Homo sapiens: one gene and its partner. The protein of the gene in region 1 purifies or fractionates together with the protein of each later gene. This does not show direct contact. Each region holds a gene or a part of one and is shown in the gene's direction. Other genes may lie near its edges.

What was found. Proteins that work in one complex are often made in the same cells at the same time.
Region 2: the proteins of LCLAT1 (region 1) and ZDHHC11 purify together in Homo sapiens (co-immunoprecipitation; one large-scale study listed by IntAct). This does not show direct contact.

The regions. Positions count from the first base shown.
Region 1 is NC_000002.12:30,445,107-30,451,199, forward strand, and holds the start of LCLAT1 (lysocardiolipin acyltransferase 1), read left to right. Parts: upstream 1-2,139; 5' UTR 2,140-2,277; exon of another isoform or gene 2,278-2,417; intron 2,418-6,093. UniProt on the Homo sapiens protein: Exhibits acyl-CoA:lysocardiolipin acyltransferase (ALCAT) activity; catalyzes the reacylation of lyso-cardiolipin to cardiolipin (CL), a key step in CL remodeling.
Region 2 is NC_000005.10:812,056-817,270, reverse strand, and holds part of ZDHHC11 (palmitoyltransferase ZDHHC11), read left to right. Parts: exon of another isoform or gene 1-944; intron 945-2,475; coding exon 2,476-2,510; intron 2,511-5,215. UniProt on the Homo sapiens protein: Endoplasmic reticulum-localized palmitoyltransferase that could catalyze the addition of palmitate onto various protein substrates and be involved in a variety of cellular processes.

The DNA.
Region 1 (6,093 bases):
TGGATGTCTTGATGAAATACATACATTTCAGACGCGGATAAACCCCACAAAAATTCAGGAGCTTGCTACATTGGTGATATTTTAAAATAATTATTTAAAAAACTGGGGGGGTAGTTTTAGACTTAGGAGAGATGTAAAGAGAGTACAGGGATTTTTCCATATATTCTTTACCTAGCTTCCCCTTATGTCAACATCTTGTGTAAGCATAGAACATGTATCAAAACAAAGAATGATCCTGGTACAATAGCATTATGTAAACTATACATCATTTTGGATGCTGAAGTGGTCCAATGATCTTGGGCACGTCAAGACATTTTCCCCAGAATGAAAAACATGTTACTACACCTTGCACCTCTGCCAAAAAGAAAGAAGCATGACACTTAGCAGATCTCTGAGTTTAGAAATCAGCATATTTTGCCCTTGGGAATTCTGTTCCTATCCCTTTAGCAGTTGACGTGGAAGGTGGCTACTGATCAGTAGCTCAGATCAAGAACGGGCTCAGGGCCAGGCGCGGTGGCTCAAGCCTCTAATCCCAGCACTTTGAGAGGCCAAGGTGGGTGGATAGCTTGAGCTCAGGAGTTCGAGACCAGCCTGGCAACATGTTGAAATCCTGTCTCTACAAAAAACACAAAATTAGCTGGGCATGGTGGCAGATGCCTGTAGTTCCAGTTAGTCTGGAGGCTGAGGTGGGAGGATTGCTTGAGTCCAGGAGGCAGGGGTTGTAGTGGGCCACAATCATGCCACTGCACTCCAGCCTAGGTGACAGAGCGAGACCCTGTCTCAAAAAAAAAAAAAAAAAAAAAAAAAGCAAAGAAAAGAAAAAAGAAAGAGCCCAGCACTGTCCTCTGTGGTTAGGGCGGTAAGGGCAACCTTGCCTCTTGGGCTGTATCACCGGACACACCTCACAATGCTAGAGCTCTCTGCAATGGAGCTGCAAAGGCTATGAGGAACCTCCGGCAAGCCCCCAAAGAACCACAGTAGAGCCCTTGAAGGTTCTGGAGCATAGCCAGGCCAACTCTTAACAACAACAAAAAAGAATTGGGAGATCTTTTATTCCAGTAATCTTATTTTAAAGGTAAAAAGGAGGCCTAAAGTCATAGGCATAATTGGCAGAATTGACTTTTGTTCTGGTGTTTCTCTCTGTAGTCATTCTTCACTTTCTGATGCAATTTTAGCACATCTTAAATATTAAAATGTTTTGGAACAAACTTAGAGAAATTATGAAGCTAATTTAGGAAAAGAGCACAAGAATCTTTGATTTACAGGCAATTTGGGGATATAATTTAGCTATATTGAAGCTATGCAGCCAACATGTAGATGGTCATTATTATTACACCATAAATTTTGTGAGGTCAGGAACCTTGTAATTTTAAAAATATTCACTCTGTGCTTTGTTGAATAAACGGATAAAACGTATAGACATACATGAACTACTGATGAGTGGCTGTGTGTGATGTGTAGCTATGTTTATTATTTTTAAGATTCTTATTGTATTTGTTGAAGGCCAAGTTGAGGAGGGAATTGCTTAAGGGAAATGAAAAGGGGTTTAACCACAGTCCCCACCATTCAGGGGCATGCAATCTAGTAGGTTAGGGGACAGGACAGACACACCATGATAGGTGATCGAGACCTTTTAAGAGCAGTGTGATGAAATTGCTATGGGAACTGGGAGGAAACATTTTCTAGGACTGGGGAAACACTGAGTGTGCTAGAAAAACTTTGTGCTCCTGATCAGGGAACCTGGGTTCTATAACTGCTTCTACTACTGATTTGTCCTGTGACTTCGCGCACCAAATTTAGGCTTGTAAATTAAACTCCCAGATTTCTGTTTTCCATTTTGCAGCTCTAGGGGTTGAATGAACCATTAGGTTCCCTCGGACAAATGACCTCCGCTAATTTCCTATTTCGTTGTTTTCTCACCCCTACACCCCACCGTTCCGTGGGTCCCTCCTCTCCAGGAGGCCAGACGAGGAAATAAGCGAGGCCTCTTTAAAGGAGCTCTCAAAGAAAGGTACCCGGGGTATCCCGGGCTGTGGAGCAAGCGCGGGGCGCCGGGGACCCGGGTTTCCCACGCAGCCGGGGACGCCGTTGCGTCACGGCGCCTGCAGCCAATCAGGACGTAGCCTTCCGGGACGCATTACTAGGGCGACGGCCGGACGCCTCCGCGTTACGGGATGAATTAACGGCGGGTTCCGCACGGAGGTTGTGACCCCTACGGAGCCCCAGCTTGCCCACGCACCCCACTCGGCGTCGCGCGGCGTGCCCTGCTTGTCACAGGTGGGAGGCTGGAACTATCAGGTGGGGTTACGGCGCGAGGAAAATGGCGGCGGCCGGGGGATCTCAGAGGTGCAGGAAGGGGAGCTGCAGCCCGGGCTTTTCCTCCTGAGCCATGGACCTTCCCCGGGCCGCGACCTCGGGTAACGGCCACTGGCCTGGCATTTGGGGTCCCGGTGCAGGTGGCGGTAGCGTCGCTGGCTCAGGTGGAAGGAGGCGCGGGGAAGCGACTCCTGGAGGCTGGCTGAGGCGTCAGGTGCTGAGGGGCCGCGCGAGCGGCGAGGGCGAGGTAGCCGCGGGGCGAAGAGGGTCCCGTCGGTGTTTACGCTAGGAGCGTCAAAACCTTCCTCCTGCGACCTCAGCGGGTCTGGGAGCTGCACTGTCCCGGAACGCAACCTGAGGTCTGACCCTGTTAAATCCCATGCACTAAAACGTCTCAAGTGGTCACCACGTGCGGGGCTTCGACGAGAGCCGTGGAGAGCAGGGGCTGGGGTTGTCTTCCCTGCGAGTCCTGCAGGCGCCAAAGGCCTGCCTGTAGGTGCCAGAGTGGCAGTGCCGCGAAAAGAAAGGTAGGCCCTAGCCAGGGCGGATGCCAAACCTGATCTTTAAGGTGTATCGTAGCTTCTAATTGCCCATTTGAAGAAAAGAAGTTGAAAGATAAGGCACTTAGATGTGGTTGTGGAGATGTTTTGCTTTCTTGTACTTCCCTGGTTCAGGTGGCTTCCCTGGAAATACTGCATCTGCCTTTAAAGTTCATTAACTGTGTTTCTTGTGTACATGGCAGTAGATGAGATTAGGGATTGAAGTCACTTTAAGTCCAAGAAAAGTATTGAAGATATGTGTTGAAGGCATTACCAAGATGAAATATTTATTCATATCATTAACTTATTTGTTCAAAGAAACGTCATCTCATGAAGTATAACTACGTGGGTTAGTTTTCAAAAAACTGACTTGATGAAAGCCCTTTTTGTAAAACATATTTTTTGAGAGTAAGTAAAAATACATCATCACTTTTTCGTTTAGGTTTCTGTTGCACATTGTACTTTGATATGCTTGATATGACAGATAAGCATAATGTTAACTGACTTTTGTTTTTGGTAGTAGGCTTGATTTTATGGAGTAGTACCTTGTTCTGTAACTGAGAAAAACGTAATAGCGCTTGTGTTTCAGTCATCAATAGCTGCAATCTCTGGAGTGCCAACTATGTGTCAGTTTCTGTGAAAGCTAGGCTTCTCCTACTTTTTAATTTGAACACATGGTCGTCTGCATCTGCCCCCACCAGGTCTTTAGGCTGGCTGTTGCTGACAACCAGGAGGAAGCAATGGGGAAAACCCAAAAGATTCTTCCAAACTGGATCCATGGAGATTTGGTCAGTTTGTCCTGGGGTTGAGGTTATGGGTGGATTCTAGTCCAAACTCTGCCACTTAAAAATATCTTAGGGTAATCATACAACTTCACTATTGGTGTCTTATCTCTAAAGTGAGTATTTCTTATTCAAACAATCTCATTGCACTGTTGGGAGGAAAAAGAAAAGACAGTATGTGTGAAAGGGCTTTAAAAAGTTAAAAAAACAGTGAAAATATTTGAAATTTATTCCTCTGCATTCATGTACTCTGCCAGGCACTGAATCCGGGGACTTATATGTGCCAACTCAGTCATCTAGCATCACTGTGAGGCGGATACATTTATTATCTTTATTTTGCAGATGAGGAAACTGAAGCACATTGAAGTTTAAGTAATTTGTCCATATCACACAATTAGCATTGTGTTTCCAGCCTGTGTTCTTACTGTCTTACTACCACCATGCCTACTATCTTCCTATGACATACAGATGTGTTATGTATTAAGGGGAAACATTAATTCATGTACAAATTTTTCATTTTTAATATATATATTTTTCTTTTTCAAAGGCTCTAGCAATGTCCTAGAATGAACACATATTTCAAGCCAGTAGTTTTGTTTGTGATCTTGTGTAAATAATAATCATGGTTTATTCCATTGGCGTCCAATAGTGATTTGTGTGGTAACAATTACATTTACTTTGGTTAAGTGGTATATTCTTCTTACTTGTGTTGCCCATTAATTAAAAAGTTATTTTGAAACAGAGTTATGACTAATTTCTTTTTTTTTTTTTTTTGAGAGGGAGGTTCGCTCTTGTTGCCAGGGCTGGAGTGCAATGGCACGATCTCGGCTCACCACAGCCTCTGCCTCCCGGGTTCAAGCGATTCTCCTGCCTCAGCCTCCTGAGTAGCTGGGATTACAGACATGTGCCACTACGCCTGGCTAATTTTGTATTGTTAGTAGAGACGGGGTTTCTCTGTGTTGGTCAGGCTAGTCTTGAGCTCCCGACCTCAGGTGATCCGCCTGCCTCAGCCTCCCAAAGTGTTGGGATTACAGGTGTGAGCCACTGTGCCTGGCTAGTTATGACTAATTTCTATCAGGAAGCACAAATCAATAATTGGGATTTTTGTTTTTATTACATTTTTTAAAAGAATAATTTGCTGGGGGACTTTTAAAAGAAAACTGATTTTAGTTAAGCTTGTTGTTTTGATATACTTGTGCTAATTTTTCCAGTCTTTATTTATTAATAAAATAGGATGAGTAAAAGTGGCTAGGACATTTATTGTTTCATTGAACCTTTATGGAATAGCCCTGCCAAGTCTTTAGGATGTAAACATTAACTCCTGACCCTACCCTTGAGGAGTTCAGGGAGAAGTCCCAGGTCCAGAAGTTTGTAGACAGTTGAGACAAATAAATAAATGATTAACTAATAAAGCATGATAAGGACTCAAATATAATTGTGGGTACAGAGACCTGTGAGAGCACATAAAAGGGAACAGTTACTTCTTCTGGGATGGGCCTGGCCAGAAGAGGAAGGGAGCTAACTGGAGGATAAAGGCGTAGGGAGAAACAGAGCAAAGCTAGGACAAGTGAGAGCTCATGGTGTCCAGGGGTCAGACCACAGTATTACAGGTGTTGCTGGGAGAGAAGCCAGGAAAGGTTAGAGCCAGGTTGTGAACTCTTAGCTAAGAGAGTGGGAACTCTCCTGCGGGCAGTGGGAACTGTAGAAGGATCTCGATTAGATGCATAGCTTCCACTTTATGCTACAAAAATGCTAGGATAATGGGTGTTAGAATTTTTTTCTTTTTACTTTAGGTTTTGAATATATTTGTACAGAAATCATTGTAATATGGAAGTAATCACTGATGGTTTCTCTAGTTTTAAAGCTGATCTCCACTTAAACGTGTGTAACACTAAAGTTGTCCAGCACCTAACAACATAACATGAATGCAGTGCAAATCGACTACAAGGTAGGGTGTGCAAATCTTGCAAAAGATGCAGGATTTCATGAAGTCAAAGCAAGGGGGAGAACTGCTGAAACCATAAGCGCAAATAAAGGACTAGTGCCTGGAATAGGCAGAGATTCTTAAAAAGGACTCAGAAAGCAATGATCATGAAAATGATTGATAAATTTGTCTTCAGACTTCTTTAAAATTGGAAACTTCTCTTCATCTGAAGACACCACTAAGAAAATGAAGAGCAAAATATGGACCGGAAGAAGAAATTTGCAATTTATATATCTGACCAAGGACTCATACCGTGTGTGTGTGTTTATTTGTGTGTGTGTAGCATAAACAAAATTAATGAGAAAAATCATTTTAAAAATGCATAGATGTCTTGAACAGGCACTGTCTATTAGAGGGTCTCAGAATGGCCAGTATGCACATAAAAAGGTACTTAACATTATTTGCCAGTGGGAAATATAAATTAAAACAATAATGAGATACTGCTATACACCTTCCAGAATAACTAAAATTA
Region 2 (5,215 bases), on another chromosome or scaffold:
AAGGGAAAAGTCTGTACAGCTTTTAGCAAAAATGCTTTTGCAGAAAAGCAAATTAAAATAATGCAAACAGCATACCGAGGTGGCCACAGCTTGACCTCAGAGCTACAACTTCTCATATCTGTGTCAGAAAATCCTATGTATCCAGAATAGAGTAAAATTTCAGGACAAAACATGGACTTTTTAACAGTTCTTACTTTACCCATTTTAAGTTATTTTTATCTCCCCTACCCCCCAGGGCAGTAATTCAGCAAGATCCAGCAGAAAGAGGGCTATTTGATGTTTCTTCCCATGGGGAGAGTGTCAGGGAGCCTGGACATTTCAGGCTCATGCATCCATGACCAGTCTCCCACTGGGGTCAGAAAAATTCAGCCATAGACTTGGTGAACTTGGCTTCCCGCTGCTGCTTTGTTCTCCTGCTGATGAAGGTCAGCTTCAGGGTGTATCTGCCATCAAACCTTTTAAGACTGGAGGGCAGCTCCCAAATAGCATCAGAATCCACTCCTGTAGGCTCTTTTCTGTGGGCCACGAGAAAGATGGTCTTCTCCTTAGATGAGGTCTAAATAGTCAGAATTCCCATCATCACAAAGCCAAAACGGGCTTGGACTCTGGAAAGGGATGCATATAATCCCAAATCACAGCCACTATGGCAAAGCAACAGGAGATTGTACAGATGGTGAGGTGACCGTCAATTAGACAAAAATTCTCCACGTATTTGTATTTTTCCAGAAGTATCTTTTTGGCAGAATCATCCAGAGTTTTTCACAGCTGATCCATCCCACTTGTCCGTTTTTCCAGGCATATCACTTATCTTCGACTTATCCACATGCCGCTACGGCCACTGCCTGTCCCGCAGCTGGAACCCCCGCCAACCCCACCACCGCCTGCGCTACCGCCCCCCTCCCGCCCGTGCAGCTGCTGCCGCCATCTGTCCGCCTCTGAGTCTCCCTCCAGAGAATATCTTTGTGATCTTCTGTTAAGCAATGTCTTCTTTGATAGATCCCAAAAACATTATTTCCGAAAAAAGAAGAATAAATGTGACTTTAAGCATTTAAAAATTTCCCTTCAATTGACACCATTAAGAGAATGAAAATATAAGCCACAGACTGAAATAAAATATTTTCAAGTCATATACTTGTATCCAGAATATTTAAAGAATTTTCAAAACTCAGCAATAAGAAAACTCTGTTTTCAAATGGGCAAAAGATTTGAACACAAAACTTCCACAAGGCAATAATATGAACGACAAAGCACATGAAAAGCTGCTCAACATCATTTCCCACCTGGGATCCACGAGCTAAAACCACAATAAGATAGCATGGCACCCATGTTAGAAAGGCTACAATAAAAATGATCAACAAGATAAGCCAGGCACAGTGGCTCATGCCTGAAATCCCAGCACTTTGGGAGTCCAAGGAGGCAGAAGGATGGTTGGAGGCTAGGAGTTTGAGACCAGCCTGGGCAACCTATCTTTAAAAAAATTAATTTTTAAAAAGATGAACAATACCAAGTGTTGGTGAATATGTGGGAGAATTGGAAGTCTCATCCATTGCTGATGGGGATGAAAGATGATGCCACATCGCCAAGCAGTTTGGCAAAGCTTCTGATGCTGAGTAGGTACTTATGATATGACCCAACACTCTCACCCCCAGATTCTTACCCAAGAGCAATGAAAGCAAGACTCTGTCTCTAAAAAATATAATTAAAAAGAAGATGAACAATACCAAGTGTTGGTGAAGACATCGGAGAACTGGAAGTCTCATGTATTGCTCATGGGGATGAAAGATGATGCCACATTGGCGAGCAGTTTGGCAAAGCTTCAGATGCTGAGCATGTACTTATCATATGAGCCAGCACTCCCACTCCCAGGTTCTTAACCAAGAGCACTGAGAACAACGTGTGTGCACACATAGCAGGTGTTTTTCTTTGCTAGAGCTTCCACAAGCAGGAACCACACATGGGGTGTTGGAACAAGAAATGTATTTTCTCACATATCTGCAGGCTGGAAGTCCCAGAGCACGGTGTCTGCAGGGTTGGTGTCTCCCAAGGCCTCTCTCCTTGCCTTGTAGATGGCCACCTGTTCTCTGTGTCCTCCCAGTCTTCCCTCAGTTTGTGTCTCTGTCATAATCTCCCCTTCATAAAAGGACACCAGTCACTCTGGATTAGGGCTCACTCTAGTAGCCTCATCTAACATCCATTACCTCTTTCAAGACCCTGTCTCCACATATAGTCACATTCTGAGGTACTGGGAGTCAGGATGTCAACCTATGAATTTGGAGGAGGATATAGTTCAGCCCATAATACAAGGATTGGGAGGAAGGGTGCTGTGTCACCACTGAGATCCTATTCCATGATCCAGGCATTCTTGAAGTACCATTACTCAGAACTGACTAGTAATGAACTTGAATTTTAAGAATAAGTTTAATGTCAACAAGGTCTTTGTTCATCCTATGAATTTTGCATCCCTTCCCCCCACAGGAAGCAGATGATGCCCCGAGTATATCTACACTTGGGTAAGTTCGTAAGTTTAACGGGAACGTTTTGTCTGTCTCTACACTTGCCTGAACTCAAATTACATAGGAAAATATGTTCTCTATTTAACATGTTCAAATAATCTGATGACATAAGGGAAAGTAGAAATGTTTCTCTGAACATTTATAGCCATTCATGTGGCTTATTGCACTCATCTTACTTGAAAAAATTATAGAATTCTTTATAACTAACATTTGAACTTACGCACAAAAATAAGGCCAAGCGTAGTTATTTTCTTTCTTTAAACACGTGTAATGTTGTCAGCCTGAATGTTTTTTAATGTTTCTAATAGTGTTTCATTGAGAGTCAGATCTTGTCATTTCAACTCTAAATACATCCACTGATGACAGCTCTGCCCCAACACTGCACAATTCCAGCCCAACTGCACACCACTTTTTCACCCTCCAAACTACAAAGCTGAAAGAAGACCCTTATAAAGAGGACCATGATCCAGTTTTAAGCACACATTCTAAAGGGTACCCTGTTCCCATGATGAAATAAAATTGTACAGCCATGACAAATGCATATTCTTCCCAGAGAATCTCAAGTACAGGATACACTTCTCACAGAACATAGAGTAATAGGAAATCTACTCACACATGATGCTGAGTAAATTATTTACTCCTTGTTTGCTGTTTCATTTTTCTTTCCATAAAATGAACATATATTAACTTTATATTTTAAAAAGCAGCTTTATACAACATTTCCCAGAGTTTTAGGGTTTAGATATTGCGCTCCTACACTCTACTAAAGTTTCATCTAGAACCATTTAATACAACCTAAAAGAAAATGAAGTGGAAAGGTAAGAGTCATTGGCTCAAACCACCCCAGGTGCACAGACACAGGCACGTGCACACACACACACTCGCACACAGTCACACTCTCTCACACTGACACAGCCTCCTTCCTGCCTTCACCTCACATCTCAGTCCCCAGCCTGCCTGCCATATTCCTCCCATCACTGCAGGGAGTCCCAGCCGGCCCCACAGGGGAAGCCCCCACCCCAGCCTGCACAGAACAGCCCCGTGCTCTCTGGGCACACAGCAGCTGCAGCCGTCCTGGCCCAGGACCTCTGGGGTCTCTGCCACCATTCCAGTAGGTCATGCTGCTCAGGGGGGCCAGATGGCCAAACCAGGTAGGGCCCAGTGGACATAAGCCCAGTGACACGGCCGACATTATTCAGGGAGGGTGTGTGAGGGAGGCTGCTCGTGCTGGGAAGAAGGAGCACCCACACCTCATGGCTCGGAGCTGCTTGGGGTTCCTCTAGAGGCACCTGGGACCCCAGACTGCTGAGGTCACCGCATGCCTCCCGGTCTCCCCCTCACAGATGAGTGCACCCAGCTGGCCTCATCCTCCCAACCCAGCTGCCCTGGATCATGGAGGAACATTTATTTTTTTATTTTTTTATTTTTTTGAGACAGGGTCTTACTCTGTCACCCAGGCTGCAGTGCAGTGGCACAATCTCAGGTCACTACAACCTTTGCCACTTGGATTCTTGCAATCCACCCACCTCAGCCTCCCAAGTAGCTGGGACCACAGGCTCATGCCACCACACTGAGCCAACTTTTGTAGAGATGGGGTGTCACCATGTTGCCCACACTGGTCTCGAACTCCTGAGCTCAAGCGATTTGCCTGCCTCAGCCTCCTAAAGTGTTGGGACTACAGACATGAGTCACTGTGTCTGGCCATGGAGCAACATTTAGATGGGGGAGAATTTAATACCTAACTTATACTCAGAACTTATAACCTTGTTACATGCTAATTGTATCAGTTTGAAGATGATAGTATAGGTTAAAAATATTCTGCACCTCCCTTCCTGAATTTTAATTTCTTCAACAATATGGCATAGATTACACTCATGACGTTTCATATAGATGTGTTTTATTCTTGTCAGGAAATTCACCCTCTCATGATGTGCATATACCGTGGCTTAGTCAACCATTGTTCACTATGGGATATTAAGTTTATGACCAAGTTTAGGTTTTGCAAACAAAATTGCAAGAAGCACCTTTGTGCCAAGGTTGTCAGATACTGACAATATTGTTTTGTTTCTGTGGAACACTTAAAAGTCAAAGGGCATTTGCATTTTAAATCCTCATAGTTTCTTTTTACTTACTTTACCAAAAGGTTTAAACAATGCAAATTTCCTTCAATTTCCTCACCCTTTTCAGCACCAGATATTAGCAAGGTATTTTTAGTTTTATCCAAATAACACTTTTAATTGTTTCAATGTGCATTTTCCTTATTACTAATGAGACTGAACATATTGTCATTCTCTTTTTTACCGTTTCACAGTTCCTCTTGTATGAATTAGCTTTTCAAAGGTTTGCGCACTTTTAAATGGAGTTGTTTGTATTGTCGATACTAAGTGCTCTCTGCACGTTAGGGATAGTAATTCTCTGATCTGTGTGTTTCCAACGTATTTCTTTCAGTCTGTCTTTTAAAATTTTGTGTTTATCGTGTCTTTTGCAACGTGAAGTTCATAAATTTTTGTGAAGTCAGTTGTCAAATGTACCTGTCTTGCTTTAAAAAGTCTTTCTTACTCCAGGGTTATACCAAAATCATACAGAACTCTTTGCTGATATTTTTATAATTTTTCTGTTTTGACTTTCCTTATATTTTGATTTTCAAGCCATCTTCAACTTATTTTTGCATACAGGGAGAGAGCTAAGGTTACTTTATCTCG